7 linked regions of the Homo sapiens genome follow. The protein of the gene in region 5 interacts with the protein of the main gene of each other region in a pairwise test. Each region holds a gene or a part of one and is shown on either strand. Other genes may lie near its edges.

The links.
Region 1: the proteins of CLEC7A (region 5) and TMEM79 interact in binary tests that used the Homo sapiens proteins (3 or more experiments, as listed by UniProt).
Region 2: the proteins of CLEC7A (region 5) and NINJ2 interact in binary tests that used the Homo sapiens proteins (3 or more experiments, as listed by UniProt).
Region 3: the proteins of CLEC7A (region 5) and CALM3 interact in a two-hybrid assay, tested with the Homo sapiens proteins (one large-scale study listed by BioGRID).
Region 4: the proteins of CLEC7A (region 5) and FAM3A interact in a two-hybrid assay, tested with the Homo sapiens proteins (one large-scale study listed by BioGRID).
Region 6: the proteins of CLEC7A (region 5) and ARL13B interact in binary tests that used the Homo sapiens proteins (3 or more experiments, as listed by UniProt).
Region 7: the proteins of CLEC7A (region 5) and CD53 interact in binary tests that used the Homo sapiens proteins (3 or more experiments, as listed by UniProt).

What each region holds. Positions count from the first base shown.
Region 1 is NC_000001.11:156,290,134-156,292,943, reverse strand, and holds the end of TMEM79 (transmembrane protein 79), read right to left. Parts: intron 1,560-2,810; coding exon 1,346-1,559; 3' UTR 501-1,345; downstream 1-500.
Region 2 is NC_000012.12:653,446-656,945, reverse strand, and holds part of NINJ2 (ninjurin-2), read left to right. Parts: intron 1-3,500. UniProt on the Homo sapiens protein: Its role in unclear. In contrast to NINJ1 paralog, does not mediate plasma membrane rupture (cytolysis) downstream of necroptotic and pyroptotic programmed cell death.
Region 3 is NC_000019.10:46,607,806-46,611,282, reverse strand, and holds the end of CALM3 (calmodulin-3), read right to left. Parts: intron 3,460-3,477; exon of another isoform or gene 3,087-3,459; coding exon 2,943-3,086; exon of another isoform or gene 2,802-2,942; coding exon 2,695-2,801; exon of another isoform or gene 2,438-2,694; coding exon 2,302-2,437; exon of another isoform or gene 2,278-2,301; intron 2,186-2,277; exon of another isoform or gene 2,159-2,185; coding exon 2,130-2,158; 3' UTR 501-2,129; downstream 1-500. UniProt on the Homo sapiens protein: Calmodulin acts as part of a calcium signal transduction pathway by mediating the control of a large number of enzymes, ion channels, aquaporins and other proteins through calcium-binding. Calcium-binding is required for the activation of calmodulin.
Region 4 is NC_000023.11:154,506,233-154,509,732, reverse strand, and holds part of FAM3A (protein FAM3A isoform 1 precursor), read left to right. Parts: intron 1-1,080; exon of another isoform or gene 1,081-1,107; coding exon of another isoform or gene 1,108-1,135; coding exon 1,136-1,259; intron 1,260-1,385; coding exon 1,386-1,444; intron 1,445-1,847; coding exon of another isoform or gene 1,848-1,871; coding exon 1,872-1,922; intron 1,923-2,242; coding exon 2,243-2,327; intron 2,328-2,403; coding exon 2,404-2,530; intron 2,531-2,826; coding exon 2,827-2,922; 3' UTR 2,923-3,500. UniProt on the Homo sapiens protein: May act as a defensin against invading fungal microorganisms.
Region 5 is NC_000012.12:10,120,200-10,123,699, reverse strand, and holds part of CLEC7A (C-type lectin domain family 7 member A), read left to right. Parts: intron 1-336; coding exon 337-455; intron 456-3,500.
Region 6 is NC_000003.12:94,042,655-94,046,154, forward strand, and holds part of ARL13B (ADP-ribosylation factor-like protein 13B), read left to right. Parts: intron 1-360; coding exon 361-586; intron 587-3,500. UniProt on the Homo sapiens protein: Cilium-specific protein required to control the microtubule-based, ciliary axoneme structure. May act by maintaining the association between IFT subcomplexes A and B. Binds GTP but is not able to hydrolyze fit; the GTPase activity remains unclear.
Region 7 is NC_000001.11:110,890,148-110,893,647, forward strand, and holds part of CD53 (leukocyte surface antigen CD53), read left to right. Parts: intron 1-1,244; 5' UTR 1,245-1,261; coding exon 1,262-1,324; intron 1,325-2,197; coding exon 2,198-2,386; intron 2,387-3,500. UniProt on the Homo sapiens protein: Structural component of specialized membrane microdomains known as tetraspanin-enriched microdomains (TERMs), which act as platforms for receptor clustering and signaling.

The sequences.
Region 1 (2,810 bases), on a different chromosome or scaffold from region 5:
CCATCTTGCTTTTCTGTGGAACCTCAGAGGCCAGCCTCGACTTCCTGGAGACCCCCAGGTGGGGCTTCCTTCATACTTTGTTGGGGGACTTTGGAGGCGGGCAGGGGACAGGGCTATTGATAAGGTCCCCTTGGTGTTGCCTTCTTGCATCTCCACACATTTCCCTTGGATGGGACTTGCAGGCCTAAATGAGAGGCATTCTGACTGGTTGGCTGCCCTGGAAGGCAAGAAAATAGATTTATTTTTTTTCACAGGGCTCCAGTCTCTTGATGTGTGAGTGTTGTTGGGCTGGTCTTGGGCTGGTTCCAGGGAATGGAAGGGCTAAGAGATGGGCTTGGAAGGCAAGTTTCTGTTTGAGGCTCCATTTCCTTGCTGTGGAACCAAGGAACCTGCCAGCCCTGCTCCACCAGGTAGAGCTGGGAGGTTTCTATCGTCATCTGAATTAAACAGGGAAGGGACACTCGAGACTGGGGGACAAACAGGAAAAAAGAGCCAGCAAAGACTGGTAGTAATTTATTGTTACACACACACACACACACACACACACACACACACACACACACACACTAGGTTAACATCAACCACCGCACCATCCAGGCACTCCCCAGCCACCACGTGTGGGCACAAAGACACACACACCCCTCTTGGTAGGCAGATTTCCCTGTCTGCTCCCCTCTTCCTGTGGGAGAGGCATGCCTTCTGGGCAGTTTAAAGGTGGGAAGTTACAGGGGCCTAAAAAGGTAAAAGAGCAGCAGCTCTGCACTGGCCAGCTGTAAACAGTAAATAGGCCAGTCATGGAGGGTCCTGAATCCAGATCCTCAGGAAGGTTTTCACCAAACACCACAGTCCCATTTGATGTGATGCCCAGCCTCTATCCTTAAGGCATTTCCAGCGTCCCTGAGGCGCTCTGCTTAGACAACTGGCACAGAAGTGGTCAGGGCCTTGGCTGTGGCTCTGCCTCCTGCCTCACGGGAAGCCGGGGAGTGGAGCAGAGACCAGCATTAGGGAGCCTTGTGGCAGTGGTGAGAGGCTGCTCAGGAAGGAGCTGTGCCTCTCCCCTGGTCCTGGCCCCATGCCCTCAGCATCCTTAAGAAACACGGCTGTCCACCTTTTTCCCTGCAAGAAAACTAAGTCCATCCCTTATGACTGTCTCGGGCCCCAAAGGTGAAGGGCAGCTCCGGCAAGGGGAGAACTCCGATTGATTGGAGTCCCTGTTGGGGCAGTAGCAGGGTTCCACCCACCGCGGTCCTAGGCCTGGGGGCGAAGTCCAGGCCTGGCCACAAGGTTCAAAGATGTGTCAGACCCAAGCCGCTACCCCCTACTCCGAGGGCGAGGGCGGAGAGGCTCAGCCCCAGGGGCGGGGCCTGTAGTCGGAGGCCGAGCGGGCGTGGTCCGGGTAGTCCAGGCGGCTCTCGGTGGCAGTGAGCATGCGCTCCGGCTCCACCACGAACATGTAGTAGAGGTTCCACATCAGCATCGACAGCAGTGGCAGAAACGTCAGGCCGTAGCCGAAGCCTCGGAAGGAGCGGCCCACGGCAAAGGTCAGCCAGTAGATCAGCCTATGGGGGCAAGAAAAGGGTCAGGCTACTCTCGAGGGAAGCGCGTCAGCTGATTGGCAATAGGCTGACGGTGGGGGGAGTAGATAGGGGAGGCAGATGCAGTTGGTGGGTATGGCTGGTACTTCCAAATACAGCCAAAGTTTATGCACTTAACATGTATTAGGCACAGCGCTAATTACTATAAGTGATTGATTTGACTTCCCCACATCTTTATGAAGTTGAGTATGTTATTCCTTTCCCTCTTTTATTTACTTTTCGATTTATTTTTATTTTTTTAGAGACATGGTCTTGCTATGTTGCCAGTCTGGGCTCAAACTTCTGGCCTTGAGTGATTCTCTCACCTCAGACTCCTGAGTAGCTGGGATTACAGATGCGGGCCACCACACCTGGCTGTACAAACTTTAAAATGTTTGAGCAAATTCAATGAGTATAGTAAAATATCTTCCTCCCTTTACCGATTCCCACCCTATTCTCCCCCACCCCCACCCCAGGCATCAATATTATGGTTTCTTGTGCACTGAGTGATTTTTTAAATTATTATTATTTTTTTATTTTTGAGACAGAGTCTCTCTCTGTCACCCAGGCTGGAGTGCAGTGGTGCGATCTCAGCTCACTGCAACCTCCGCCTCCCGGGTTCAAGCAATTCTCCTGCCTCAGCCTCCTGAGTAGCTGAGACTACGGGCGCCCGCCACCATGCCTGGCTATTTTTTTGTATTTTTAGTAGAGATGGGGTTTCACCCGAGATGGTCTCAATCTCCTGACCTGATGATCCGCCTGCCTTGGCCTCCCAAAGTGCTGGGATTACAGGCGTGAGCCACCGCGCCTGGCCTATTTTTTTTTTTTTTTAAATTATAGATGGGGTCTCTGTCAGCCAGGCTGGAGTGCAGTGGCAGCCCCCAACTCCTGAGCTCAGGCAGTCCTCCCACCACAGCCTACCAAAGTGCCTTGGCCTCCCAAAGTGCTGAGATTACAGGTGTGAGCCACCATGCCCAGCAGATTTTTTTCTTTTATTTTTTTCTTAAAGACCAGTGTGCTTTTCTTGGAGAAAGAAGAAAAGAAGAAAGAAGGAAGAAGAAGAAGAAAGAAAGGAGGAAGAAGGAAGAAGAAGAGCCAGTGTGATAATACATTGAGTGATTTTTTAAAAAGTGCATATATGAGCAAAAAGTTATTTTTCCCTTTTCTGAAGTATGGCAGCATACTATATAGACTGTCTCTGCATGTTTATTTTTCCCCCATTTAATATATCCTGGA
Region 2 (3,500 bases), 9.5 Mb from region 5:
TGGATGCCCGGTTATTCTGGCACCATTCGTTGAAAAGACTATCTCTGCTACATCGTATTGTCTTTGTTCCTTTATCAAAGATCAGTTGGGTCTATTTCTGGGTTCATTATTCTGTTCCATTGATCTATTTGTCTATTCTTTGTCCAAAACACATTGTCTTAATTATTGTAGCTTTACAGTAATTTTTTTTTTTTTTTGAGACAGAGTCTTGCTCTGTCACCCAGGCTACAGTGCAGTGGCGCAATCTCGGCTCACTGCAACCTCCACCTCCCAAGTTCAAGCGATTCTCCTGCCTCAGCCTCCCGAGTAGCTGGGATTACAGGGGCCCGCCACCACATCTGGCTAATTTTTGTATTTTTAGTAGAGATGGGGTTTCACCATCTTGGCCAGGCTGGTCTCGAACTCCTGAACTTGTGATCCACCAGACCCTACCTCCCAAAGTGCTGGGATTACAGGTGTGAGCCACCATGCCTGGCCGCTTTACAGTAATTCTTCAAGTCGGGTAGTGTCAGTCCTCTGACTTTGTTCTTTTCCTTCAGTATTTTGTCACCTATTTTGGGTTTATTTTATTTTATTTTATTTTTAGACAGAGTCTCACTCTGTCTCCAGGCTGGAGTGCAGTGACGTAATCTTGGCTCACTGCAACCTCCGCCTCCTGGGTTCAAGTGATTCTCCTGCCTCAGCTTCCCAAGTAGCTGGGACAACAGGTGCCCACCACCACGCCCAGCTAATTTTTTGTATTTTTAGTAGAGATGGGGTTTCACCATGTTGGCCAGGATGGTCTCGATCTCTTGACCTCATGATCCACCCACCTCAGCCTCCCGAAGTGCTGGGATTACAGGCGCGAGCCACTACGCCCTGCGGGTCTTTTGCTTCTCTATATAAACTAACTATACAATTAGTTTGTTGATATTCACAACTGATTTTGATTGGGATTGTTTGAATCTATAGTGAGTCCTCTTATCCATAAACATGGAATATCTATCTATCTATTTATTTTATATTTATTTATAAATTTATTTATTTATTTATTAAGATGGAGTCTTGCTCTGTCACCCAGGCTGGAGTACAGTGGCACAATCTCAGCTCACTGCAAACTCCGCTTCCCAGGTTGAAGCAATTCTCCTGCCTCAGCCTCCTGAGTAGCTGGGATTACAGGTGCGTGCCACCATGCCCAGCTAATTTTTGTATTTTTAGTAGTGACAGGGTTTCACCATGTTGACCAGGCTGGTCTCGAACTCCTGACCTCAAGTGATCCACCCGCCTCAGCCTCCCAAAGTGCTGAGATTACAGACGTGAGCCACCGCGCTTGTCCCCTTCATTTATTTAGTTCCTTGATTTATTTAATCAGTTTTGTAGTTTTCCTCATAATAGATATTGTACATATTTTGTTAGATTTATACATAGGCATTTCACTTTTTTAGGTGCTAATGTAAATGGTAGTGTTTTAAGTTTCAGATTCTACTTGTTCAGTGCTGTTTCATAGGAAAGTGATTGCATTTTATGTATTAACCTTGTATCCTGCAACCTTGCTATAATTGCTTATTAGTTCCAGCAGATTTTTGGTCAGTTCATTTAGATTTTCTACATAGACAATCATGTCATCTGCAAACAGAGATAGTTTTATTTCTTCACTCCCAATCTGTAGTCCCTTCATTTCCTTTTTCTGAAGGAACTACATTGCATTTACTAGGACTTCCTAGCAAAGACTGGGAAACTGCTAAGACTTGTTCATACTGAATGCAAATTCAATGTATGAAGCAGTGGTGACAGGAGACATCCTTGCCTGTTTCTAATCTTAGTGGGAGTGCTTCTACTTTCTTATCATTAAGTATGATGTTAGTTATAGGCTTTTTGTAGATATTCTTTATCAAATTGAGGAAATTATCTAGTGTACTGAGAGTTTTTATCATGAATGGGTGTTGAATTTTGCCAAATACTTTTTCTACATCTATTAATATGATCATGTGATTTTTCTTTTTTAGTCAGTTGGTGTGATTAATTACATTAATTGATTTTCTTTTGTTTTTATTTTATTCTCTTTTTTTTTTTTTGAAATGGAGTTTGGATCTTGTTGCCCAGGCTGGAGTGCAATAGTTGATCTCAGTTCACTGCAACCTCCACCTCCCAGGTTCAAGTGATTCCCCTGCCTCAGCCTCCCGAGCAGCTGAGATTACAGGCGGGTGTCACCACGCCCGACTAATTTTGTATTTTTAGTAGAGACAGGTTTCTCCATGTTGGTCAGGCTTGTCTTGAACTCCCAACCTCAGGTGATCCACCCACCTCGGCCTCCCAAAGTGCTAGGGTTAAAGGCGTGAGCCACTGCACCTAGCATTAATTGATTTTCAAATGTTGAACCAGTCCTGCATACCTGGACTAAACCCCAGTTGGTGTGGTGTATAATTCTTTTTTTTTTTTTTTTTTGAGACGGAGTTTCACTCTTGTTGCCTAAGCTGGAGTGCAATGGCATGATCTCGGCTCACCGCAACCTCTGCCTCCCGGGTTCAAGCAATTATCCTGCCTCAAGGTCCGGAGTAGCTGGGATTATACGCATGTGCCACCATGCCCGGCTAATTTTTATATTTTTAGTAGAGACGGGGTTTCTCCATGTTGGTCAGGCTGGTCTCGAACTCCTGACAGGTGATCTGCCCACCTCGGCCTCCCAAAGTGTGGGATTACAGGCGTGAGCCACCGTGCCTGACCCCATCCATTTACTTTTAATCCGTATGTGTCTTTTTTTGTTTGATACAAGGTCTTACTCTATCACCCATCACCCAGGCTGGAGTGCAGTGGCACCATCTTGGCTCACTGCAGCCTGAAATGCCTTGGCACAAGCAATCCTCCCACTTCAGCCTCCCAAGCAGCTAGGACTACAGGCACAAACCACCACACCCAGCTATTTTCTTATTCTTTGTAGAGATGGGGTCTCACTATATTGCCCAGGCTAGTCTTACTCCTGGCTTCAAGTGATTTTCCCATTTCAGCCTCCTAAAGTGCTGGGTTACAGGGGTGAGATACCACACTCAGCTGATCTATATGTATCTTTATGGTTAATGTGAGTTTCTTGTAGACAACATACAGTTGAGTCTTCTTTTTGTGTCCATCCTGACAATTTCTGCCTTTCAATTATGCACTTAGACCATTGACATTCAAAGTGATTACTGATATAGTTGGATCTACCACATTTGTTACTGTTTTTCTATTTGTTACCCTCATTCTTTGCTCCTATTTTTGTCTTCCACTTTTTTTTTTGCCTTTGGTGGTTTTAACTGAGCATTTTATATGTTCCTGTTTTATCTCCATTCATAGTGTATCAGTTGTACTTTTTTTTAACTTTTTTTAGTTATTGCCCTGGAGTTTGCAGTTTACAAGTACAACAAATCCAAGTGCACTTTCAAATAACACTATACCATTTCATGGATCGTGTGAGTACCTTATGATAACAAAACAATCCTAATTCCTCCATCCTGTTCCACGTATCATTGCTGGCATTCATTTTA
Region 3 (3,477 bases), on a different chromosome or scaffold from region 5:
GCTCGGGGCTCTCACCCAGTCTCGCTGGATTTCCTTCAGTTCCTTGATGTCTGGGCTTCTCTTGCCTCAGGGCTTCCATACATGTCGTCCCCCCGAACTGGAATGCCCTTCCGTCCTTCCCCTACCCGGCTAGGGGACTGCCCATCTTTCAGGTAGGTCTCAGCTCAGTCCTGCCACCTGACTGGGCTGACCCCTTCTCTGTGTGCTCCCATGGCATGATGGGCCTGCCTCAGAGGAGCCTTCTCAGTCCCCGCCTTTCAGTCCATTTGTGCGACTATCTCTAGGACAGGACCCTGCCGTTGATGACCCTGCGATCTAGCTGGGATCAGAACTGTGGTTCAGAGGCGTCCACTGGGCTGCACTGACTGGACACAGCTTCAGAGCCAGCTTTGAGGAGAGGCTCTTCCACCTCTGGGCCAAAGGAGTCAGTGCTGGGGTTGGTGTGTATGTGTGTTGGAGGGGGGCAGGCCAGAAACTGAGACAGGAGGAGAGGAGCCAAATCAGGTAGTCACTGTATTTTATTGGAAAACATTGATATATATTTTTCTTCACAGCTTGAACTGAACACAATATTGCCCGGTTTAAAAAAAACAAAACCAAAACATTCCGAAAATGTCCACAGCCTCACGCCTACCTGCCCTTACCCTCAGCTCTTGGCTGGGTCTCCCACTATGCCCCATCCCTCCTTCCCTCAGAGGCTGGGTGCCAGAGGGTGGATGAGAAGAGATTCTCAAAGCTGGGCAGGTCCCAGGAAAAGCCACTTGATCGACCTGGGCAGTGAGGGGAAGCAGGGGGTGGGGGGTGGGGTGGGGAGGTGGTGGGGGGAGCCAGATGAAATGAACAGAAAAGGGGAAAAAACCCAGACGACTGAACTGCCCACATTGACTTACTTGTCCCAGAGGCGAAAGTCAGAAGCAAGGGCACGGATCATGCTCTCCGCTGGGGGAGTATGGGGGCAGGCAGGTGGGCGAGGGAAGAGGCAGGGAAGAGGGCACGGAGCACAGATGTGAGGAAGCGGCGCCAAGTCACCACGGAGAAGCGGGAGGTGCTGGCGGACCAGGACGCAGAGGCTGCTGTAGCTGCCGTCCCCTGGGCAGCTGGCCGACAAGACTGTTTTATTGCAGGTGCGTTCTCTTGAGAGCGTGGTGGGGCCCATCTTCCCTCTCCCCACCCTTTAGCTAGCCCAGCATGGTTCTGAACAAAATGAAAGTCTTAAGGGCCATAGAGGGGAAAGAAAAAAAAAGAGAACCAGCACATTACAAAGCGACCATCCCCACATCCATTCCTAGGACGGGCCCTCAGGGCGGTGGGTGCATCGTGAGGAGGGAGCGGCATGGGATGTTAGCACCAGGTATTTACAGAACAGCTCGAGAGCGCTTCAGGAACGCGGGCAAGTCCAATTTGCAGAGTGGCCAAATGAGCAGTCCCCACCCAGCCAAACCTCAGAAAGCCAATCAGATGGTTTCAGAACAGCAGCCAGTGGGATGTGAGTGTTGCCCACTGTCAGTCCCCTTCTGTGAGTTGGCCCCCTCGACCCCCTCCTGGGCCACATCCAGTCAACGCCACAATTCCTCAACGCCCCCTCAGTCCTTCTGGAATGCCTCTCTTGGCACCCCTGCCCCAACAGGCTGCTGGGATCTGCACGTGGAATCACAGGGCTGGTTGCATGCAACGGCAAAGGGCATGCTCTTCTGCCTGGGGGAGGGCCTCTTGTCCCTCCCAGCAGGTCCCGGGACAGGGCTGGCAGCCACCCCAGCACCCAAAATAAGATGACAAACAAGAGGAAACAAACCAAAATGGAGGAGAGCCATCCGGGCTGGAGGAGGGCAGAGGCTCCCCAAGGGGATCTGGGGAGGGCTTCAACTTATGAATGCATCAGGCCTTGGAAGACATGGATGGAAGAGGCGAGGGCAAAAGGAAGAGATGAGGGGCATGGAGAGAGACTCAGGGAAGAAGGAGAAAGAGCAATCATGCAGCTTGGGACAAATCTTTTGTTGCTTTATCAGATTCTCAGTCAATCAATTGGTGTTTGCTAGAACCGGGGTACGCAGGGGAGTGTTGAAGAGAGAGTGCGCGCGCGAGAAGAGAGAGATCAAGAGAACGGGCATCGCCAGCTGCCCGGGGGGCCTTCACTTTGCAGTCATCATCTGTACAAACTCTGTGGAGTGAAGCAGAGAGAGAGGAGGTCAGGCGGGCAGGCTAAGTGGCGAGCGGCCCTCCCCAACAAGAGGGATCTGGGGGCTTGTTCCTGAAGCTGCGATTCTCTTCTTGTTCCAGAGATCAAGCCTGGCCTTGACTCACCTTCATAATTGACCTGGCCATCTCCATCGATGTCAGCCTCCCTGATCATCTCATCCACCTCCTCATCGGTCAGCTTCTCCCCCAGGTTCGTCATTACGTGACGCAGCTCTGCGGCGCTGATGTAGCCATTCCCATCCTGGGGGTTGGGGATAAAGCCTTTCACTGGGCACTTCTCCCGGTGGGGAGAGAGGCAGTGAGAGGGGTGGCTGTCATCACCATCCCTCAGCAGTGAGCACAGTGAGGGAGGCTGCCTGAGGTGGCAGAGCAGGTTGGCAATGAGGCTGGCACCGGGACCCGGACCTCCTGGAAGTGGTAGCTCCGTGGCTCCAGTTCCGCCTGTCTGCCTGAAGGCTGGCGTCAGTCTCAGAGCCGCCCCTGGAGAGGGCTGCTTACCTTGTCAAAGACACGGAACGCCTCTCGGATCTCCTCCTCACTGTCTGTGTCCTTCATCTTTCTGGCCATCATGGTCAGGAACTCCGGGAAGTCAATGGTCCCGTTCCCTGGAAGGTGGGGAAAGGATGGAGAATGCTCTTGGCCTGGGCCCTGAGAGACACGGGCTCATCCATCACCCTGAGAGAGGCTCCCTGCAGTCACTCGGGGTGACCAGGAGCAGGGCTGCCCACGCGCTCTGTGGGGCTCACCATCTGCATCCACCTCATTGATCATATCCTGCAGCTCTGCTTCAGTGGGGTTCTGTCCCAGGGATCTCATCACTGTCCCCAACTCCTTGGTGGTGATAGTGCCATCTCCATCCTTGTCAAAGAGGGAGAAGGCCTCCTTGAACTCTGGGGGAAGAAGGGGGAGGAGTCAGAGGTCACAAGGTCCACAGGAGAATCCTTACCTCTGGATGCTGGATGCCTTCCCTGGAGGAAGGCCAAGGGCATCAGTCCCACCTAAAGAAACTGAGACAGACTTCAAGTCCCACGCAACCAGCTCTCTCTCCTCAGTGCTCAGGGCAAAGCCCTTCCAACCTTCATTCAACAGTTATTGAACATCAACACTGTGCTAGGTGAAGCTATTTTTCTGGCCAGCCAGTGAAGACAGTGGGGAAAATGGTCTGACAGCTGTCCTTAGATGATTCTACATTTCTGTTTGGTCCCTGGCTTTGACTTCTCCCTTGAAATGATGAAATGAACCAAAGTCATGGAGTGAATGAGAGCCGAAAGGATTCTTTGT
Region 4 (3,500 bases), on a different chromosome or scaffold from region 5:
TTCAGCCCCCTTTTTTCCTGCGTCTCATATGCTTGCTTCCACCTTCCACCTTTCTGCCACGGGATGACCCTCACCAGATGCCGGCGCCATGCTTTTGGACTTCCCAGCCTCCAGAACCATGAGCCAAATGAATCTGTTGTCTTTATAAATTACCCAGTCTGTGGTATTCTGTTATGGCAGCAGCAAATGGACTAAGACAAGCCTCTACTGACTACCCAGTTCCAAAGCCATTTCCACATTTTTAGGTATTTGTTACCTAAGCACCACACTTCCTGGTGCCAAAACCTGTATCCATTTCCTGGAACTGCCATTTCAACTGGGTGGCTTAAACAACAGAAATGGATTCTCTCCCCATTCTGAAAGCCAGAAGTCTGAAATCAAAGTGTCAGCAGGGCGTTACTCACCCTGAAAGTTCTACAGGAGGGTCCTTCCTGACCTCCCCAGGTTCCAGTGGCCCCAGGCATACCTTGGCCTCTGGCTGTGTCACTCCTGTCTCTTCCTCCACTGTACCATGGCTGTCTTCCCTCTGTGTGTCTTTGTCACTTCTGTTCTTATAAGGACATCAGTCATGTTGCATTAAGGACCCAACCTACTCCAGTATGACCCCATCTGAACTGCAAAGGCCCTATTTGCAAACATCACATTCTGAAGTACCACAGATTAGAACTTCAGCATACCTTGAGGGGACAGAATTCAACCCATAATAGAAGCCATCCTGCTCCAGTCCTCCCAACCAACCCCCATCAAAATCGGGAGACAGGCTGCACCCCCTGCCACACTACCCCCTGCCACACTGCCTTTGCTCAGGTTGGCCTCATCCATGCAGCTAGACCCCCAGCCTGACTTACTTCACCCCTGCTTTGTTCCTGGCTGTGCAGTGGCCCAGGCCAGCCCTCAGCATCCTTTCTTTTCTCCCACCAGTAACAGAAAATCCTTCTGTCTTGGGTCCCTGTGGCCTCACCAGTAGGACACAGAGTATGGAAGTGTCCCCAGCCTCGGCCTGAGCCACATCCCCCTACTTGTGTCCTGCTCTGCGGTCACTTGTTCTACCATGTGTGCTGGTCCTGACCTCCCCTTCAGATCTCAGGTGACCTCAGGGCCAGGCCCATGGATAACACCTGCTATCCCTGCCCAGCGCCACGGGCCAGGAAGTACAAGTGTGGCCTGCCCCAGCCGTGTCCTGAGGAGCACCTGGCCTTCCGCGTGGTCAGCGGGGCCGCCAACGTCATTGGGCCCAAGATCTGCCTCGAGGACAAGATGTGAGCTCCCTGGGGTGACTGGGGATCAGGGAGGGAGTGGGGGATCCAGGGCCGGGTCTGCAAGGGAGAGTGGAGCAGACGTGCCCATGTGGGATCTCCCCGTCCCCCCCACCCCCCCCCAACTAGGCTGATGAGCAGCGTCAAGGACAACGTGGGCCGCGGGCTGAACATCGCCCTGGTGAACGGTGAGGCCCCTGGCTGAGCGTGGCCTGCCGCCCTCCTTCCCTGCTCCCTCCCCAGGAGGCCTCTGGGTGTTTGCCCTCCCTTCCCCTCCCATTCAAGATCTCCCAGGGAGGCCTGGGAAGGAGTCTGTGCAAGCGCAAGGCTCCACAGAGGAGTGACCCAATGAACAAAAAAGCATGATGGCAATAAAGAACTAGGGAAGGTTCTGGGAGGTTGAGGGTGCTTCATGGAGAGCCCCCGGAGGGCCTCAAATGCCAGACAGAGGCACCACGGCTTGGGGTGGGATGCAGCTGCCTGAACAAATGGATGAATATTGGGGGACTGTTTGAAAGCTTCCAGAAGGGCTGCCCCCCACCCCCGGTGCTACCCGCCTGCCGTGCCCTGAGGCTGGCCTGGCTTACCCAGCAGGGCCCCTCCCTCCTGACACAGGGGTCAGCGGCGAGCTCATCGAGGCCCGGGCCTTTGACATGTGGGCCGGAGGTGAGTTGCAGCGCAGCGTCTTGCATTTTGACTGCAGCAAAATGACCTGGGCAGCTTCCCCTGAGACACTGCTCTCTCTGTCTGTACTTGGAGCTTCTCAGTCACCTCCGTGGGTTCAGAAAGGACAGGGGCATCGCCAGCTTGGTCTGGAGGCTGTGGGAGGTCACGGGGATGCCTCAGCTTCCTACACCAGCCTGTCCCTTGGCGGGGCATGTCCCAGGCCCAATCCCTACTTCTGTTTCCTTGTTTGGAGAACGGGCTTGTGGGAGGGTGCTCAGTGGTGCCTGATGACCCCTGTTCCGTGGCACCTGCCCCCCCAGATGTCAACGACCTGTTGAAGTTTATTCGGCCACTGCACGAAGGCACCCTGGTGTTCGTGGCATCCTACGACGACCCAGCCACCAAGTAGGTGCTTGGGGAGGCCAGCCTCAGCCTTGCCCTTCTGCAGCAACAGCTGACACCCCTTCCTCCCATGCTGCAGGATGAATGAAGAGACCAGAAAGCTCTTCAGTGAGCTGGGCAGCAGGAACGCCAAGGAGCTGGCCTTCCGGGACAGCTGGGTGTTTGTCGGGGCCAAGGGTGTGCAGAACAAGAGCCCCTTTGAGCAGGTATGGGGGGTGCCTGGCATCACCCCCACCGGGGCAGCCTGTCGCCCCTTCTGCCTGCATGCGACGAGCCTCCCCAGCTGCTCACGCCCCAGCAGGGGACCGTCCCCAGTCCAGCTATGAGGGGTGGGCCAGTGCAGCTGATGCCATGTTTCCCTGGGATGGGTGGAGGGGCCAAGTGCCCTGAGAGTACACCGTTGGCCAACACAGCACAGTTGACTGACAGCCTGGGTCCTGGTCCACTCCTGTCCCCTGTCCCTGAGGGCCAAAGTCATGACTTTCTGCTCCCCTCCCCACAGCACGTGAAGAACAGTAAGCACAGCAACAAGTACGAAGGCTGGCCCGAGGCGCTGGAGATGGAAGGCTGTATCCCGCGGAGAAGCACGGCCAGCTAGCACGGCCAGTGCCAGGACCGGGCCGAGGGAGGCCAGACCAAGGGAGGCACGCGCGCTGCCGGGCGGACAGAGGCTGAGGCTCACACCCCACACCCGGGCAGGAGCGCTCCCTGGCCCCAACACATCGGGGCTCCGAGGCAGTGACCAGAACGTGGTCTCAAGGTGGTGGGGGCTATGGGGGCTGCAGGGGGTAGCCCTGCCGCACTTTGTCACGGGAGCCCAGGGTACCCGCCTCCTTTTCGTAACACTGTTCCCCCCGGTCAGCCCATCTAGCCCTGTCCTCCATTCCTCACGCCATCTCCATCCCCATCTTGAGTCCTGGAACGGCCCTGGGTGCCTGCCCCTCACTGTGCATCTCTGGGAGCAGCCCGGCAGGTTGGGGCGTCTTCCAGAACCTCTCCCTTCTGGAGCCACTCTGCACTGCGGGCTAAACATGTTTCCAGTGTGATTCCTTCCAGTGAGCCAAACCCGGTGGCTGCTTCATGAGCCTGACTGCCTCTCGCCTGCTCTCAGCAGGAAGGGACCCCTGGAGCAGGCTGGCCCGGGGTGGTGAAGTAGCTGGAGCCCGATCACAGTCC
Region 5 (3,500 bases):
AAGCTCCGCTTCCCGGGTTCATGCCATTCTCCTGCCTCAGCCTCCCGAGTAGCTGGGACCACAGGCGCCCGCCACCGCGCCCGGCTAATTTTTTGTATTTTTAGTAGAGACGGGGTTTCACCTTGTTAGCCAGGATGGTCTCGATCTCCTGACCTCATGATCTACCCGCCTCGGCCTCCCAAAGTGCTGGGATTACAGGCGTGAGCCACCGCGCCCGGCCTTGCATTCTTTACCAAAGTGATTCAATCAGTTGTCTTTTTCTCAGCGTCCATGATAATAGTTTCTTTCTCTCTCTCTCTCTCTCTTTATTATATATTTGTATATGTTTCATTACAGGGATTTATAGTAAAACAAGTGTCTTCCCAACCTGATAATTCATTTTGGATAGGCCTTTCTCGGCCCCAGACTGAGGTACCATGGCTCTGGGAGGATGGATCAACATTCTCTTCTAACTTGTAAGTGTTTGGAGAGACAATGCTTCATCCTTTTTCTCAGAGAGGTTTCCATCTCATCTATGAAAACCTCTGTCGAGCAGCTAAGAACCTGATTTGCTCACCATATATGAGAAAGAGAGGGAGAAAGATATAGAAGAAGAGAAAGAGTGAACTAGGACAAGAGGAGAAAGATGAGGAGGACCTTAGAGTGAAAAAGAGTGAGGCCATCTAGTAGCATCAACACAGATATTCTTCTGGTTTTCTTACTAGGGAGGCATCGACATGTTTGAAGTTGTCCAGGCAAGGAGCAGTCACTGTCAGTCAGTGTAACTCCCCGGTTAAGAGCATGGGTTTTGAAGCCAGGCCTCAGTTTGGGTTAATGATTACCCCACTCACTGATTGTGTGACACTGGGGATAAGTCACTTTTCCTCTCTGAGTCCCATTTTCCATAAACAAGAATAGAAAGGTGCTCTTGGCCAGGTGTGGTGGCTCACACCCGTAATCCCAGCACTTTGGGAGGCCCAGGTGGGCGGATCACTTGAGGTCAGGAGTTTGAGACCAGCCTGACCAACATGGTGAAACCCCACCTCCACTAAAAATTTAGCCGGGTGTGGTGGCATTGCCTGAAATCCCAGCTACTCAGGAGGCTGAGGCAGGAGAATTGCTTGGACCTGGGAGACAGAGGTTGCAGTGAGCTGAGATTGCACCATTGCACTCCAGCCTGGATGACAGAGTGAGACTCCAGTGAGACTCCAACTCAAAAAAAAAAAAAAAAAAAAAGAAAAAAAGAAAGAGTGCTTTCCTCTTAGAATTGTGAGATGGGTATAAAAGTAAAATAATTTAGCACAGTGTCTTGTACATAGTTAATGTGTGAGACTTATTATTAAGTTAAAAAGCAACCACATTTTCACATTTTGCATTTTAGAAAGATATTTTAAACGTATTTCACATTTGCCTGATGATACATTATTCCTTATTATGTGGTTTCTGTCACTGCTGTTGTCATTCATTTGCTTTTTAATATCTGCAGAATATGAAATATGTCTCTTTTAAGTTCTTATTATTAGTGTGTGTGTGCACACCTGTGTGTGTTTTTTCATCTGTCTCAGTAGGAGTACCGTTCAATTTGGTTTTTCAAAGAAAGTAACTTTTGACTTTGTTGACTCTGTCTTTTTATTATTTCTTTCATTAACTTTTATTCTAATCTGTATTACTTCCTTCCATCTAATTTATTTTTATTTTATTTTGTTTTATTTTTTGAGACAGAGTCTCACTCTGTCACCCAGGCTGGAGTGCAATGGCGATCTCGGCTCACTGCCAGCTCCGCCTCCCGGGTTCACGCCATTCTCCTGCCTCAGCCTCCTGAGTAGCTGGGACTACAGGCGCTCACCACCATGCCCGGCTAATTTTTTGTATATTTAGTAGAGACGGGGTTTCACCGTGTTAGCCAGGATGGTCTCGATCTCCTGACCTAATTTATTTGTTTTAAATTTGCTATTCCATCTCAAACTTCTCGTATTGGGTGCTTGCCTCATGAATTTAAGCCTTCCTTTATCTCAAGTATGTAGACTTAAGGCTATAATTTTAATGTATTTTCATTGTCTTTCAGTTCAAAATACTTTCTGATTTCCACTGTGAGCTGCTCTTTGACCCAGGAGTTATTTAGAAATGCATTTCTTAATTTACAAACATATGTGTTTCTGGTTATCTCTTTGTTTTAGGTTTCAGGCTTAGTTCCACTGTGATCAGAGAACATGCTCCACGTGCTTGTAGTTCTGTGATTTTTACGTGCTTCTTCCTCTTTCCATATGAAAAGAATTGTGTTGAAATCTTCCGCTGCGATTCTACTTACAGTTCTGTAAACATTTTATTCGATGTGTTGAAGCCGTGTTATCAGGCACATAAAGATTTAGAATTGTTACTTTTTTTCCCCTTTCTTTCCTCCTTTTTGGACGATTTAACACTTTTTCTTATTCTGTTTTTTTTTTCTGTTCATTTGGAATGTGCTCTTTCATGTCTTTTACATCTCTTTTACTAATCTTTTAGTAGTTGTTCTAGGAATTACACATGTATACTTCACTCATCAAAGACTAACATTAACTGACATTTTTATGTTCTTCCTGACCAATATAAAAATCATAGAGCATTCCTTTACTCTGTTGACTCTCTCCTCAATTTATATGCTATTATATTAATGTATTTATTTTTATTTATTTATTTTTATTTTATCGCCCAGGCTGGAGTGCAGTGGGGCAATCTTGGCCTACTGCAACCTCTGCCTCCTGGGTTCAAGCGATTCTCCCACCTCAGCCTCCTGAGTAGCTGGGACTACAGCTATGCGTCACCAGCTGGGTGTGGTGGTGGACGCCTGTAATCCCAGCTACTCAGAGGTTGAGGCACCAGAATTGCTTCAACCCGGGAGACGGAGGTTGCAGTGAGCCGAGATCGCACCACTGCACTCCAGCCTGGGTGACTGAGCCAGACTCAGTATTAAAAAAAAAAAAAAAGAAAAAGAAAAAAGAAAAAACTAGCCCTTGGGCCGGGCGCGGGGACTCACGCCTATAATCCCAGCACTTTGGGAGGCCGAGGCAGGCGGATCACTTGATCTCTGGAGTTCGATACCAGCCTGGCCAAAATGGTGAAACCCCATCTCTACAAAAAAAAAAAAAAGATATAAAAATTAGACAGACAAGGTGGCGCACAGATTTATGCAGTTAGTATTCATTTCAATTTGCCCACATATTTATGATTTTAGTTGTTTATTTCTTTCTTCCTTTCCAACTGTACATTACAGGTATTTTTTCTTAAGACTGATATTTCCAGTAAGTATAGAATTAGAGGTTTGTTGTTTTTCCTCTCAGCCACTCAAATATATTATTCCACTGTTTTCTATTTTTTACTGTTGTTTTTGAGAGGTCATCTGTTTGAAGGTAATATATGTTTTAAAACTAATGTGTTTACTCAGCACTGAAAAATTCTCAGCCATACTTGCTTCATATTTTGCTTTTCCCCATCTTTTTTCCCTTCTCCTGGAATCCCAGTTACATTCATTACAGACCCATTGA
Region 6 (3,500 bases), on a different chromosome or scaffold from region 5:
TGGGTGATGTATGTCTGTACATGATATAGGTATGTATGTGTGGGGGTTGGCAGAGAAAATCATCTCTTAGTGATTATATACTGAACAGATTATATACGGAATAATACAGATGAATAGTAGTCATCTCTAGATTGTGGAATTACTGGTAATATTTGTTTGCTTTTGTTATACTTTCTGTTTTACTGAATGTTTGACATTTAGCATCTTTTAATGATGTATTCATGAAATCATTTTTAAAATAGAAGTCTCACAGTGTCCTTGAAGTTACAGAATCCTGTTAAGGTATTTGATTTCCTCTCCCTTAAAACTATCTTAGATAAAACCATCATAGTAAAGATAATGTATTTTATTTTTTGTTAGAATGAAGGAAAACTTGAAAGAGAGAAAAAAAACCAAAAAATGGAGAAAGACAGTGATGGCTGCCACCTGAAACATAAAATGGAGCATGAGCAAATAGAGACACAAGGCCAGGTTAATCACAATGGCCAAAAAAATAATGAATTTGGACTAGTAGAAAATTATAAGGAGGCATTAACACAGCAGTTAAAGAATGAAGATGAGACAGACCGGCCATCATTGGAATCAGGTAATAAATCTAGTTATTTAAAGTAATTATCTTATGTATATATAAATAAAACTTATACTTCATCTCATTTTTTATGTTTGTTTTTACAAACGAGTACTTCAATATTTTTCTGTCTTCAAATGCCATATTTACCATGATTTTCTCAAGGTCTTTTATTATTCAGTTTGTTCCTAACCTGTTTTTCCATGACTTAAAATGTGGTCCTTTGTAACTTATAAGGATTTCAGCAGAAAATTCCATTTTTATTTTCATAAATTTGGGATACAGCATAGCTCTCAAGAATCCTTGGAATAGCCCTCCCCCTCCTCCCCCTCCCCCCTCCCTCTTCCCCTCTCCCTCTTCCCCTCTCTCCCTCCCCCTCCCCCTCTCCCCCTCCCCCTCCTCCCCTCCCCCTCCCTCTCCTTCCCTCCCCCCTCCCCTTTCTTTCTTTCTTTCTTTCTACAGTCTCCCTCTCTTGCCGAGCCTGGACTGTACTGCCATGATCTCGGCTCACTGCAACCTCCCTGCCTCGGGCTCCTGTGATTCTCCTGCCTTAGCCTGCCGAGTGCCTGGGATTCCAGGCACGCGCCGCCACTCCTGACTGGTTTTTGTATTTTTGGTGGAGATGGGGTTTCGCCATGTTGACCGATCTGGTCTCCAGCTCCTGGCCTTGGGTGATCCGCCCACCTCGGCCTCCCGAGGTGCTGGGATTGCAGACGGAGTCTCGCTCACTCAACGCTCAATGTTGCTCAGGCTGGAGTGCAGTGGCGTGATCTCGGCTCGCTACAACCTCCACCTCCCAGCCGCCTGCCTTGGCCTCCCAAAGTGCTAAGATTACAGCCTCTGCCTGCCCGCCACCCCGTCTAGGAAGTGAGCAGCGTCTCTGCCTGGCCGCCCATCGTCTGGGATGTGAGGAGCCCCTCTGCCCGGCTGCCCCATCTGGGAAGTGTGGAGCGCCTCTGCCTGGCTGCCACCCTGTCTAGGAAGTGAGGAGTGTCTCTGCCTGGCCGCCCATCATCTGGGATGTGAGGAGCGCCCCTGGCCGGCCGCCCTGTCTGGGAAGTGAGGAGCGCCTCTGCCCGGCCGCCCCGTCTGGGAGGTGAGGAGCGCCTCTGCCCGGCCGCCACCCCGTCTGGGATGTGAGGAGCGTCTCTGCCCAGCCGCCACCCCATCTAGGAAGTGGGGAGTGCCTCTGCCCGGCTGCCCTGAATGGGAAGTGAGGAGCGCCTCTGCCCGGCCACCCCGTCTGGGAAGTGGGGAGCGCCTCTGCCTGGCTGCCCCGTCTGGGAAGTGAGGAGCGCTTCTGCCTGGCCGCTCCATCTGGGAGGTGAGGAGCGCCTCTGCCTGGCCGCCACCGCATCTGGGAGGTGAGGAGCGTCTCTGCCCGGCCGCCACCCTGTCTGGGAAGTGGGGAGCGCCTCTGCCCGGCTGCCCCATCGGGTAGGTGAGGAGTGCCTCTGCCCGGCTGCCCATCGTCTGGGAAGTGAGGAGCGCCTCTGCCCGGCCACCCATCGTCTGGGAGGTGAGGAGCGCCTCTGCCCGGCCGCCCCGAATGGGAAGTGAGGAGCGCCTCTGCCCGGCCGCGCCGTCTGGGAAGTGGGGAGCGCCTCTGCCCGGCCGCCCCGTCTGGGAAGTGAGGAGCGTCTCTGCCTGCCCGCCCCTCGTCGGGGAGGTGAGGAGCGCCTCTGCCCGCCGCCGCATCTGGGAGGTGTACCCAACAGCTCCGAAGAGACAGTGACCATCAAGAACGGGCCATGATGACGATGGCGGTTTTGTCGAAAAGAAAAGGGGGAAATGTGGGGAAAAGAAAGAGAGATCAGATGGTTACTGTGTCTGTGTAGAAAGAAGTAGACATAGAAGACTCCATTTTGTTCTGTACTAAGAAAAATTCTTCTGCCTTGGGATGCTGTTAATCTATAACCTTACCCCCAACCCTGTGCTCTCTGAAACGTGCTGTGTCAACTCAGGGTTAAATGGATTAAGGGCGGTGCAAGATGTGCTTTGTTAAACAGATGCTTGAAGGCAGCATGCTCATTAAGAGTCGTCACCACTCCCTAGTCTGAAGTACCCAGGGACACAAACACTGCGGAAGGCTGCAGGGAGCTCTGCCTAGGAAAACCAGAGACCTTTGTTCACGTGTTTATCTGCTGACCTTCTCTCCACTATTATCCTATGACCGTGCCACATCCCCCTCTCCGAGAAACACCCAAGAATGATCAATAAATACTAAAAAAAAAAAAAAAGAAAGAAAGAAAAAAAAGAGTTAAAATGCCAGAGCCCCCAACTGATCTGTAGATTTAAGGCAATTCCAAACAAATCCCAGCATGAGTCTTTGTAGATATAGGCAAGTTCATTATAAAATATATGTAAAAGTAAAGGACTGGAATACCCAAAACAATTTTGAAGAAAGATCAAGGTTAAAGACTCATACTACCCAATTTAAGACATACTATAAAGTAGTGGCCGGGCACAGTGGCTCATACCTGTAATCCCGACACTTTGGGAGGCTGAGGCGGGAGGATCACGAGGACAGGAGATCGAGACCACAGTAGAGACCCCGTCTCTACTAAAAATCCAAAAAATTAGCCAGGCGTGGTGGTGGGCGCCTGTGGTCCCAGCTACTCAGGAGGCTGAGGCAGGAAAATGGCGTGAACCTGGGAGGCAGAGCTTGCAGTGAGCCGAGATGGTGCCACTGCACTCCAGCCTGGGCAACAGAGCAAGACTCCATCACAAAAAAAAAAAAAAAAAGAAAAAAAAAAGACATACTATAAAATAAAACCACAGTGATCATAACAGTATAGTATTGACTAGAGGATAGACACAGAGATCAATAAAACACAATAGAGATTCTAGAAATAGATCCCCAAAATATGGTAATTTTAATGAGTTTCATTGAGGTATAATTGACTTACAACAAACTGCACATATTTATAGT
Region 7 (3,500 bases), on a different chromosome or scaffold from region 5:
GCACTGGAAAAGGCATAATTTTAATGGAAAAAAATCACTGCCCCAACATTCTGCTTGATATATCAGTCCTGTGCACGGTTTTAAAAATGAGTCACTTTATAGAATATCATTACCTCTGACAGAAAATTCAAAATTCTGGCCAGGTGCGGTAGCTCATGCCTGTAATCCCAGCACTTTGGGAGGCCGAGGCAGGCGGATCACCTGAGGTCAGAAGTTTGAGGCCAGACTAGGCAACATGGTGAAACTTCGTTTCTACTAAAAATACAAAAATTATCCGGGCATGATGGTGCATGCCTTTAGTCTCAGCTACCTGGGAGGCTGAGGTGGGAGGATCACTTGAGCCTGGGAGGTGAAGGTTGCAGTGAATTGAGATTGTGCCACTGCACTCCAGCCTGGGTGACAGATTGAGACCCTGAAAGAAGAAAGAAAGAAAGAGAGAAAGAGAAAGAGAAAGGAAAGGAAAGCGAAAAGGAAAAGTCAAAATTCTGTATCTGGATTTCTAGAATTGAGAACCAGACATTGGACATTGATGTCCTCACTAAGAAAATGATATTCTAGTTGAAAAAAATAAAGCTTACATTGCTATCTCTTTTTACTTCCCCATTGCATATTTGTTGGCTTGTTTTATCTTTGCTGTAAGACTGTTGTCTTCTGGAGGATAGCTACTGCTTAGTCATGGTTGCATCTTCCACAACATCTAGAACAGAAAACATAAATGTTTCTGCAATAAAAGAATAAATGAGGCGTGGATATGTTCCCCCTACTTTCATGTGGAGAAGTTTACTGATCAAATGTAGCATGTACATAAATCACAGAGTATTTAAGAAACTGGCTGATCAAGCTGTTGGCTTTCTTGATGGCTGATTGACCAGTCCATCCCTGACTTCAAGGGCTTAAGTGCCCAGGCACTAGTTGCTAATGCTGCAGTTAGAGCTAAAGCACTGGCCTGGTCTCTGTCACTGTGACTCATCCTCTTCTAAGAATGGCTCTATTTTCTTCTACAATACTTAATTCAATGTTAAGCATTGTTGGCTTGCCGAATTGGGCAAAAACTGAATGTCTAAGATGAGCCAGTTGGTATTTCAGTTTAGAACTAGGAAAGCGCAGAGTTTGGGGAAACTTTCCAGAGGAGAGCCACAGCTCAAACCCAAGGTAATGCTAGAGATCCCTGAACATTTGTGCACTCTGATCTCTGGCTACCTTACAGAGTGAGGTAACTTACTTTCTTCTTCCTTATTCCTTAGGGCAAGAATATCACGGCATGGGCATGAGTAGCTTGAAACTGCTGAAGTATGTCCTGTTTTTCTTCAACTTGCTCTTTTGGGTAAGTGTATCTCTTCTGAGCACGGTTTAGCTCACCTTTACCCAGCTAAGCTCTCCTCATTCCTCTACTGAAGAGGCTGGTGTGGGGTAAAATGCATGCGTGTTTGGGTCATGTCCAGCACAACCATCCTAGAAACAAAAGAGTAATAATTTTTCCCCTCTTCCTGCCACAGAATAAACCTGCAAAATTGAAAGGTACCAGTGCAGTTATTAATGGAGGTGCTGTTTCTCTCTGAGGGCTTTAGTTTACTACTACTCGTAGCTAACATATATAGGTGAGAAACCTGAGACTGTGCTCTGGATATTGAGTGCCTCTGTTTTTCTTGTCTTTTTTTCTAGATTCCTTGAAACAATAAGTGATTGAAAGGAAAGTCACCCTTTCCAGGGAGGTTTCACTGTATAAAATTCAGCAATTGAATTTCAGATATAGGATGGGTTGGTACTTGTGTATATGAGAAGATTATTATAAGTTTGGCTTCTCTAGTTTTCTGCCTAGCAAGATGAGCTTCCTCAAGCAGGGCATCTTCTCTACATGGTCATGGTTTCTACAGAGAAAGCCATGTGTGAGCGACTGAAAAGATAAGGAAAAAGAAGTTAGACCTATATATGGTGAAGATACTGTGTGGCTCACAGAAGTGATCTTTCCTTGGTATCTGGAGATGGGTAGGAAGAGTTGTGAGTAGGTCTCCACATGAGAAAGCTGAGATTGCCTCTCCAATGTAAGCATGGAAAAGTTTGGTAAAGAAATTGTTCATGAGACTCTTGATTGAGCCAGTTAAAAATAAAGTGATTCTGATCTCAAGGAAGTGAGAATATGAGGAGATACCCAAGAACCACATTTTGCTTCAGGATGTTGTGGGATTCTTCCTTTCAGATCTGTGGCTGCTGCATTTTGGGCTTTGGGATCTACCTGCTGATCCACAACAACTTCGGAGTGCTCTTCCATAACCTCCCCTCCCTCACGCTGGGCAATGTGTTTGTCATCGTGGGCTCTATTATCATGGTAGTTGCCTTCCTGGGCTGCATGGGCTCTATCAAGGAAAACAAGTGTCTGCTTATGTCGGTGAGTCCTTACAGCAGATGTGGTGCCCCAAGTCGGGGAGATGGTGCCTAAATCCCAGGCAAGATGTTTCTTGGTAGATCACTTATAGGCACAGAAAGATCATAGGAAAATGAGATTGGTACCTCAGATCAGCCAAGTCTGCCCAGACCAATAGTATATTATGTATGACTAGGGTCCCACGGACAGGTGAAAGAGGGCATTGCTATCCCCCTTGTAGCCATTTTTATATTGCTAATAATGACTTTTGTCATTATTGTAATTCCCCTTTATAGCATTTTATTTTTTCTTTATGTCTGGATGAAATCAGGTGTCATCCATCTTCCAAAATCCTCCTCATGCTAGCTATTATTATGTACTTTCAGATTCTGACTGAGAGTCGCTAACTAATGGAAAATAATTTCTAGGCTCTTTCCTCCCCAAATGCCAAAGGATGCTTCCTTAACTCATGTCTGCACAAGATACTCCGTAGAGAGATCCAACTTAGGTGAGGGCTCTGGCTGCAGCCATTGAGGTCTAATGTGAGAGATGCTACAGCCTTTTGCATGTTCCCTATCAGGTACTATCCTGAGGAGTACCTTAAGGCTTAGGTTTTGCCTGTAAGCACAGTGCCTGTAGAGCACTGAGCTCTACATTTCTGTAGTGTTCCCAGAACAGAGCTTGGTGTAACAGTGCCACTCTACCAATAGGCGTGGGTTTCTAATCACATTGGTTCTTCCTTAAATCATTTGGTTAATCTTTTTTCCATTATGGTTCAACATTTTGGTGGTGGTTTTTTGTTTTGTTTTTTTCTTCTTGTTGTTGTTTTGGAGATGGAGTTTCACTCTTGTTGCCCAGGCTGGAGTGCAATGGCATGATCTCAGCTCACCACAGCCTCCGCCTCCCGGGTTCAAGCCATTCTCCTGCCTCAGCCTCCCGAGTAGCTGGGATTACAGTCATGCGCCACCATGTCCGGCTAATTCTGAATTTTTAGTAGAGACAGGGTTTCTCCATATTGGTCAAGCTGGTCTCTAACTCCCGACTTTAGGTGATCCACCTGCCTCGGCCTCCCAAAGTGTTGGGATTATAGGCGTAAGCCACTGCGCCCAGTCTGTATGGGTCAACTCTTAAACTGGAG